Regions from separate parts of the Homo sapiens genome. Here region 2 is linked to region 1. Evidence: fine-mapped expression QTL. A gene starts in region 1. The other region holds a variant in brackets. All regions are shown on one strand. Distances are between the middles of the regions. Region 1 holds the start of LINC03100 (long intergenic non-protein coding RNA 3100). Region 2 has its middle 24 kb from the start of PDCD1.

Evidence for each region. PIP is the estimated chance that this variant, and not a neighbour inherited with it, causes the effect.
Region 2: its variant is the best candidate, but not a certain one, in a credible set for the expression of LINC03100 in whole blood (INTERVAL, PIP 0.88).

The regions. Positions count from the first base shown.
Region 1 is chr2:242,086,326-242,090,718 of GRCh38, forward strand. LINC03100 (long intergenic non-protein coding RNA 3100) reads right to left here and starts at 2,240. Exons shown (of 1, transcript NR_186294.1): 1 at 1,026-2,240. LINC01881 (long intergenic non-protein coding RNA 1881) reads left to right here and starts at 2,308. Exons shown (of 7, transcript NR_130702.1): 1 at 2,308-2,476.
Region 2 is chr2:241,832,623-241,837,015 of GRCh38, forward strand. No RefSeq gene overlaps it. Among named protein-coding and RNA genes, the nearest start is that of PDCD1, 24 kb to the right of the region's middle. RefSeq lists an enhancer at 1,590-2,090. The variant G/A (reference allele first, on the strand shown) is at 1,881.

The DNA of each region.
Region 1 (4,393 bases):
GGCTCTGCTATTACACTATGGGTTCTGATGTTACTCTGTGAATTCCTGCTGTTACTCTGTGGGCTCTGATGTTACACTGTGGGTCCTGTTTTTACTCTGTGGGTTCTGATATTACTCTGTGGACTCTGATGTTACTCTGTGGGTTCCTGCTATTTCTCTGTGTGTCCTGCTGTTACTCTCTGGGCTCTTGTGTTACTCTGTGGGTTCCGACATTACTCTGTGGGCTCTGCTGTTACTCTGTGGGTTCTGACGTTACTTTGTGGGCTCTGCTGTTACTCTGTGGGCTCTGATGTTACACTGTGGGTTCTGCTGTTACTCTGTGAATTCCTGCTGTTACTCTGTGGATCTCTCTGTGGTTACTCTCTGAATTCCTGCTCTTATTCTGTGGACTTCTTTTGTTGCTTTGTGAGTTTCTGCAGTTAGTTTACCTCTTTACCATCCAGCCAGGAATTCTTTCACTAGGAATTGTGTGGATGCTGGCCAATTGGGCTAAATTTAATATTACTATGTCCCCTATTGTGGTGGTGGGGTCTTGGCTTGGCAATTTCTACTAGTATTCCATATGCAGTTAATCTTGACACATCAGTGAAAGAAAAATAAAATCTCAGGCCTCCAAACTTACTATGCCAAAGGGAAAAGTTAATATTGGCAACACACACACACACACGCACACACACACACACACACACATACATGCCTTCTTTTTGTTCCCAAAAGCTTACTTTATCTTATGTGAAATGTAGATCTACTGAGTATGAGACAGATGTATAACCCTCCCCCATACCTTTCTTTTCACATGTGAAATGTAGATTTGCTGTACTCTAATCAGAGCCTCACAAAAATGTGACCACTTGCCTCATAGCCTACTCTCCCCTCTTTCCCCTCCTACCGGCGCTTTTCCCTTAAATATTTGGAAAAAAGTACAGGCCAAAAATCCTACTGTAACCTGTGTTTCTTTTTCCCCAGGCAAATCCACAATTTTGGCAAAATAAACCTCTATATCAGTTGTGATCTGCCTCAGACACTTTTTGGTTTACACAACAATCCAATCATAGCGATTTATTTGGAAATATACCTTCACAAGTTAAATCAAACCACAGCACTACTGGGCATTATTTGTAATGGCAAACTATTGCAAACAATCTAAAGCCCATCATAGACATCATAGAAACTATTCTAATAAATTGATACATTTATATAATGGAATAATCCGCAACCTTGAAGGGAATGAAGGAAGGAATAAAGAGAGAGGGTAAGGAAGAAAAGAAAGGAGAGAGGGAAGGAGGGACAGACAGGTGTTTAAATTGGGGATGTGCAAGCAATATTGCCTGCTTCATTGCCTTCACATTATCTAAAAGCATGTGGTCAAGAAACACTATTACAATAAGCACATCAGAAATAACTTCTAAAATTACTTTTCCAAAATATGAATCCATACTATACACTTCCTGTAATGTGCACCAAATGTAGATGCACACATTTTAACAAGGAAAAGACTAATACTCATATTTGCTTGCTACACACCAGACACTGTTTTAAATGTTTTGCACACGTTAACTCATCTGTTCTTACAGAAATCCTGTAGCGTGCACCGCCACCTCCATGTTTCTAGGAGGAAACTGAGGCACGGGGGCTGCGGCTCCTGGACGCACCTGGCCTTCTCGGCCTGCCTCTCTCCCTCCAGCCGCCCCACATTCTTTTTTCCTAATTGGAAAAAACTATTCACGCTGCTCCTCCAGGGCATTTCAACCTTCTAGAAAGACTCGACAAGATTCGAAACTGTTTATAAAGAGAACGTGCTTGTGCCTGAATGCTGAGTGTGAGCGCGCAGTGATGCCCTAGAGTGCAGTCATCCCGGGCTTGGCGCCCAGCGGGTGGAAATACGGCCGCAGGGTGGAAATGCGGCGGCGGGGCTGCCCAGGCTCCTGTGGGACCCGCGCGGCGCGGGCACGCACATTCTCAGGGACGCGCGTCCTCAGGCCACGAGAACACCTGAAGGCCCCGGCCAGCGTCCTCCAGTGAAGACCCGGACCGGCGTCGTCACCCGCCGCGCAGGCCTAAATCTCAGGTCTTCACCGTCATCTCCCAGCGATCGCAGGGATCTCAGGCACTGACCGCGCCCGTCCCTGCGCCCCCCCGCCCCCGCCCCCCCGCGCCCCCGCGCCCCCGCGCCCCCGCGCCCCCACACCTCCACGCCCGGCACTCTGGGCGCGCGCGGACGGCGGGGCAGTGCCTACTACGCAGGCGCACGCTGCGGGCGTCAGGACCCGGCAGCAACACTGCCACGCGAATCCGCGCCGGCCAATCAGCATGGCCAGGGGCGGGGCTTCCCTGAGGCGCGCCGAGAGGCGGTGGCCCACTTCCGGCAATAATCGCCTGGTCGCCGTCAGGTGCCGGCCCAGGTGGCAGGCGCGCCCGTTGGGCACTGGGGGACGCGGGCGCGTCAGGTGAAGACTGGGGGCTGCAGGCGCGCTAGGTAGGTACGGGGTGCCGCGGGCGCGTCAGGTGAAGACTGGGCGCCGCAGGCGCCTTAGGTGAAGATTGGGGATCGCGGGCGCGTCAGGTGGGGACGATGGGCCACGGGCGAGTCAGGTGAAGACCGGGGGCGGCGGGCGCGTCAGGGGAAGACATGGGGTCGCGGGCGCGTCAGGTGGGGACCGGGGGTCTCGGGCGCGTCAGGTGGGGACGGGGTTGTCGCGGGCGCGTCAGGTGGGGACGGGGTTGTCGCGGGCGCGTCAGATGGGGACGGGATTGCCGCGTGCGCGTCTGCTGAGGTCTGGGTCCGCGGGCGCGTCAGGAAGGGACGATGGGCCGCGGGCGCGTCAGGTGGGGTCTGGGGGCGGCCGGCGGGTGTGGAGGGTTCATTCAGGGAGCTGCGGGCGAGTCAGGTGGGCACGGGGACCGCCCACAGGTGCATCGCGTGTCCTCAGCCGCTTCCCCTGCCCACCTTCTGCGACCCCTTCCCGCCCCCACCCTCCTGGGCCGTCTTGCAGGCCCGAGCTTGTGTCCGCCTCGCTGGGCAAGGTGTTTCGGGGACGACTCCTGCCGGCGTTTGCCCTCCGGGCTCGGCCCTTGCCTCTTCGCCGGTGGGCACCTGCTAGGTGTGACCCCTCATTCCTCCAGGCCACTCTGCCCCGTCTGCTGCTTACCTTTTTTTCCCTACTCCTGGTCTGTGGCTCTGGCTCTGTCTCTGTCTCCTCCCTTAATTTCTTTCCATGCTTATTTTTCTTGCAGCAGACACTAATTTTGCATCCTTCCCCTCACAGTAAGCTCAATTTGACCTTTTTCTCAATTAGATTCCACCTCTGTCCTTGGGTCTATTCAAACTCATTTTGAAGACTAAAGAATCTAGAGAACCATTTCTTCCCTTATGAAGCTGTCTCTTGCTGCCTCCAAATCCTTACCATCCGGCCCTAATCAAAAAAGACGTTTACTCTTTCATATTCTGTTTTCTCCTCGTCTTTACATGTTTACCTTTCCCATGAGGAATCTGTGATTATCTGTAAGTCCTTACAGTAAATCTTATTTCTGACTCTCAGCCCTCAGTGTGCCATTTTTTTAAATGTCCTTTCTGGATCAAATTTGTCCACACTTTTAAGCAAAACAAATAGGGAAACACATGTGGTCTTTTAAAATGGATTAGAGTTTTCTTTCCTGTCTTGTTTTCCTTGTTTTAGTGCCTTTATATTTAGATTCATCATTACTTGAAATCATATTAGTGATCTGTAATAGACGGTAAAAAAAAAAGTTAAAAGGCTTATAATTTAATGGCATCTGTTTTAATAGGGTTTTCAGGAACTGCTATTATAAACATAGTGGGTAGGAGCATGGATCCCGGAGTGAGACTCCATCATTTTGAATCCCAGCTCCACTGAACTCTTTGCCTCAGTGTCTTCATCTATAAAATAGATAATGAAACTTGTAAAACAAGAATAATGTTTTCTATCTTGGAGGACAGCATGAGGATTAAATGAGACAACATATGTAGATTGTTTAGAGTAATGCATAGCCTATAGTAAGCTCTAATAAATGTTTGCCATTATTATTGTAAAGAAAAAATATGCTTGTTGAAGGAAAGACTTTTTTTTTGTTCTGAGTCTCTCATGCCAAGAGTTTCCACCAGCAAATGAACTTCATGAAGTCATTTTCTACTGAAGTACCCCACCCACATGTCCTACCACATGAAATAGAAATTAAGGGAAGATTTAAAATAGTTAATCATTGTAGGCTGTCTGAAATAAGTTGGCATAAAATGTGCTTAAAATTTGCAAATTATACAAGCTACACCCTTTGAGTGCTTGCTCTTAAAAGTTTAATAATTTTCAGGAGTAATTTCTAGTTTTTTTTTGTATTTGCAAATCCCAAAATAAAGGTAATTTTAATTAAAATAAGC
Region 2 (4,393 bases), 250 kb before region 1:
AACATTCAGTATGCTACGAAAAATAAAGTACAAAAGTGTAACTAATACAACCACCAAAGCTTGGCCCACGAAAAAAAATTGATAAGAAAAGGTGATATAACACTGTTAAGACAGAGAAAAGATAAGCCACAGACTGAGAGAAAATCTTCACTGAACTCGTGCCTGATAAAGGACCAGGACCAGTGTTCAAAATAGTCAAGGTACTTTTAAAACTCAGCAATAAAAAAAAATCTGTTTAAAAAACAGGCCAAAGATCTGAAAGGACACCTTATCAAAGAAGATATATGGATGGCAAATAAGCATGTGAAAAAATACTTTGCAGGCGGAGGCAGGGGGATCACAGAGGCCAGGAGTTGGAGAGCAGCCTGGGCAACATGGTGAGACACCCTATCCCTAAAAAAAAAAATAAAATAAATAAATTATCTGGGTGTGGTGGTGCACAGCTATAGTCCCAGCTACTTGGGAGGTTGAGGCAGGAGGATTGTGTGAAACAAGGAGTTCAAGGCTGCAGTGAGCCGTGATTGCACCACTGCATTCCAGCCTGGGCAACAGCCAGACCCTGTGTCTTAAAAAAAAGGATGCTCAACACCGTATGTCATCAGGGAAATGCAAATTAAATAACACTACTGCATACCGACTGGAATGGCCCAAATCCAAAACACTGACAACACCAAGCGCTGGTGGAGACGTGGACGTTTCATTCATTTATTGCTGGTGGGAAAATGGTACTTTGGAAAAAAATTTGGCAGTTTCTTACAAAACTAAACATACTTTTATCATACGATCTAGAAATTGTGTCTCTTGGTATTTATCCAAAGGAGTTGGAGACTTATGTACCCATAAAAGCTTGCGTAGGATGAATTTATAGCAGCTTTATTCATAATGGCCAAAACGTGGAGGGAACCAAGATGTCCTTTCGTAAGTGAGTGGATAAATAGCCCGTGGTCCATCCAGACAATGGAAGATGACTCAGCACTAAATGAAATGAGCCATCGAGCCCTTCAAAAGCACGGAGGAAACTTAACTCATATTAGTAAGTGAGAGGAGCTGTGGACTTAAAAATCGCACTTTATAAATTTAGAGTTTTATTTCTTAAGAAGGAGATGACAACCTACAGGTGGAAGCCGAAGCTCCAGCTGAAAACCAAAAGTAAGCACTTTGAAAGAGGGGAGGGTGGAACGGAATTTATGCTGAATGAGCCGGACACATATGCATATTCAGCAGGTTATAGAAACATCTTATGAATAGTTATGAGAGAGTCCTACACTGCATACAATAAACGGGCATGTTATATACCACCCACGTTCACCTTGGGGTGGAGACTGCACATCTAACTGCGTTACAATCAGGCCCTGCACGTCAGAAGGTGGAGCCGGGACGGGAAGCACTCGGTGCGCAGCCTCTGTAAACCAGAACCAGTCCGGGGCTGGGGGTCCCTGCTCAGGGGACAGTTACTGAAATGCGGCTGTTGTCCGATGGCAGCTGTGGTTCTGGCTGGGGGAGCAGGGGTCAGCGAGGCAGTGTCTGGCAGGGGGTGAGCTGCACCTGCTTTAACGTTGTTCGTCTCAAGGCCAGCGTTTGGGTGTCAGAGAAAAAGAAAACTCCCGTGGCAGGTAGAACATAAATAAGTGCAGCGTGTGTGACTTCGCCCCTGCCTGGGGTGGCCTCAGGTCCCGTTGATAATGTGGCGTCTTATGGCCACAGTCGGTTCTGCCAGGCGATGTTCTCTATCTCAACACTCATGCTGGGCAGTTGCTGCGTCTAACCACACAGGGGAGGGGTGTCATGGGACGCATCTGATCTCCTGTCCCCTCAGGGCTGAGAACTCCATTTTTCAGGTTTCTCTGGGGTCCCCTTGACCAAGGGGTGAGGAGCCCGTC[G/A]GTTCAGTCAGTTGGGTGGCTTAGAATTTTATTTTTCGTCTCCATTTCCCGCTTTTGGCTGAGATTTGCCATAGGCAGCATCCACGGCCAAACCTTTATCTTGGCCCACCTTGTTGCTGGGGGAGGTGGGGCTACCTGCCCTGGTCCCTCCAGCCCTTCAGTGGAACCCTGATTGCCAAGGGGCTTACAGCTAAAAGACTTACAGCCAACTCAACGTTCTGGGCCAGGCGGAATTGGAGGTAATATAAGAGCTGAAAACCAAAAGCCAAAAGGCGAAGTGACAAAACTGGCTTATCTATAAGTTCCAAGTGTTGAGCTATCATAATTTTGGTCTCAGTCTCTGACTTGTAGCAATTAGCTACACGAAACGTAAGCATTTTGTTAAAACCATTTCAGCTAAGGAATTTAGAGACTTTGATATGCTGCTGTGCTTTTTGTGGTCTTTTTAGTAATTTGTCCTAAGGCGGCCAATACCGTTTTAATTGTATCTCTATTTGTATAAATCCCATAACTGGGAACAGCTGTATTCTGGAGGCTGTGTCACTAGGTGTCATTACATCCTCTTGGTAATTAAGTCTATGGGAAGCAGGAAATTCTTTAGAGGGTTAGAGTTGGAGGGATGGAGAGGGAACCACCTAATGGCCCAGGAGGCACAGTCCCTTGATTTGTCAGCAGTGCAGGCATCTATGCACTGTCCTTGATTTGGAGGGTCTGAGCTAGTTTTTTTTTTTTTTTTTTTTTTTTTTTTTTTTTTTTTTGAGATGGAGTCTCACTCTGTCACCCAGGCTGGAGTGCAGTGGCATGATCTCGGCTCACTGCAACCTCTGCCTCCCGGGTTCAAGCCATTCTCCTGCGTCAGCCTCCAGAGTAGCTGGGATTACAAGCGCGTGCCACCATGTGAAGCTAGTTTTTGTATTTTTAGTAGAGACGGGTTTCACCATGTCGGCCAGGCTGGTCTCGAACTCCTGACCTTGGATGATCCGCCTGCCTTGGCCTCCCAAAGTGGTGGGATTACAGGCATGAGCCACCGCACCCAGCCTGAACTAGTTTTATCCTTTGAAGCCAGCCCTTACCATCTCACGCCCCCTTCTCTTCCTCAGCAGTCCCTGGGCCTAGACAGAGGGTGCTTGATATGGTATAGCTTCAGCAACAGCTCCAGGAGACTTTGAATGAGAGAGATTTGAGAGATAAATGGCATTAATAATTTGAGTGGTAGAATTATAACGTACAGGCATAATGTGTCTGGAGTTGGTTCCTTTGGTGGTTTCGTGGTCTCGCTGACTTCAAGAATGAAGCCACGGACTTTTGCAGTGAGTGTTACAGCTCTCAAAGATGGCACACATCCAAAGGGTGAGCAGTAGCAAGGTTTATTGTGAAGAGCAAGAGAACAAAGCTTCCACACCATGGAAGGGGACCTGAGCAGGTTGTTGCTGCTGGCTGGGGTGGCCAGCTTTTATTCCCTATTTGTCCCCTCCCATGTTCCATTTTTGTCCCATCAGAGTGCCCTTTTTTCAATCCTCCCTGTGATTGGCTACTTTTAGGATCCTGCTGATTGGTGCATTTTACAGAGTGCAGATTGGTGTATTTTACAGAGCGCTGATTGGTGCATTTTACAATCCTCTTGCTAGCTACAGAGCGCTGATTGGTGCATTTTTACAGAGCGCTGATTGATGTGTTTTACGATCCCCTTGCTAGCTACAGAGCTCTGACTGGTGCGTTTTACAATCCTAGCTACAGAGCTCTGATTGGTGCGTTTTACAATCCTCTTGTAAGACAGAAAATTTCTGCAAGTCCCCACGCCACCCAGGAAGTCCAGCTGGCTTTGCCTCTCAACAAGAATTTATGCGCCCCTAACAGGAAGAAAGGAATCAACCCCATTAGGGAGCCAACTAAAACGATCATGAAGAAAATTACAACCTGGATCCTCTTTAGAGATGTGTAGCCAAGAGATAATTCAAGACTCAGTTTGAATTATAGGCAAAAAATAAAACTCAAGAACAGTGGTCGGGGCTGGAATTGCAGAACAAGTGTTTTCTTTTGAAACGTAATTTTTTTCATCTCTTTAGTTCCCCCTTTCTACCACAGAGAAATAATAATAAGACCAATTTGTGTACAAAATAAGTTTTAGTCTTATTCTATTTGGCTTGATCATTTGTGTAAATTGCAGCAGGAATAGCAGCTGGCCGTGTAGGCTCTTTTTAAATTGGCTTTGCTGGAACTTTATCGGAAAGTGTTATTTCAGTCAAAGGTCTTGTTAAAATAATATCCCCAAAGTGTCCTGTTACAAAAGAAAATGTATTCTTATTGAACTTATGCAAACCACCATATTGCTGTAAGTAAGAATGCTCATGAATAGTTTTTGAATTCTGGAGGTAGAAGGTAGAGAGAGAAAGCTGAACTTTGTTATTTTACTCAGTTTCTGTCACCTATAAATAGGTTAAAAGAAAAAAGGTTTTCTTGACTTTGGAAAACAAAACAAAGAATCAGTAACACTTTAAATACAAAGGCAATAA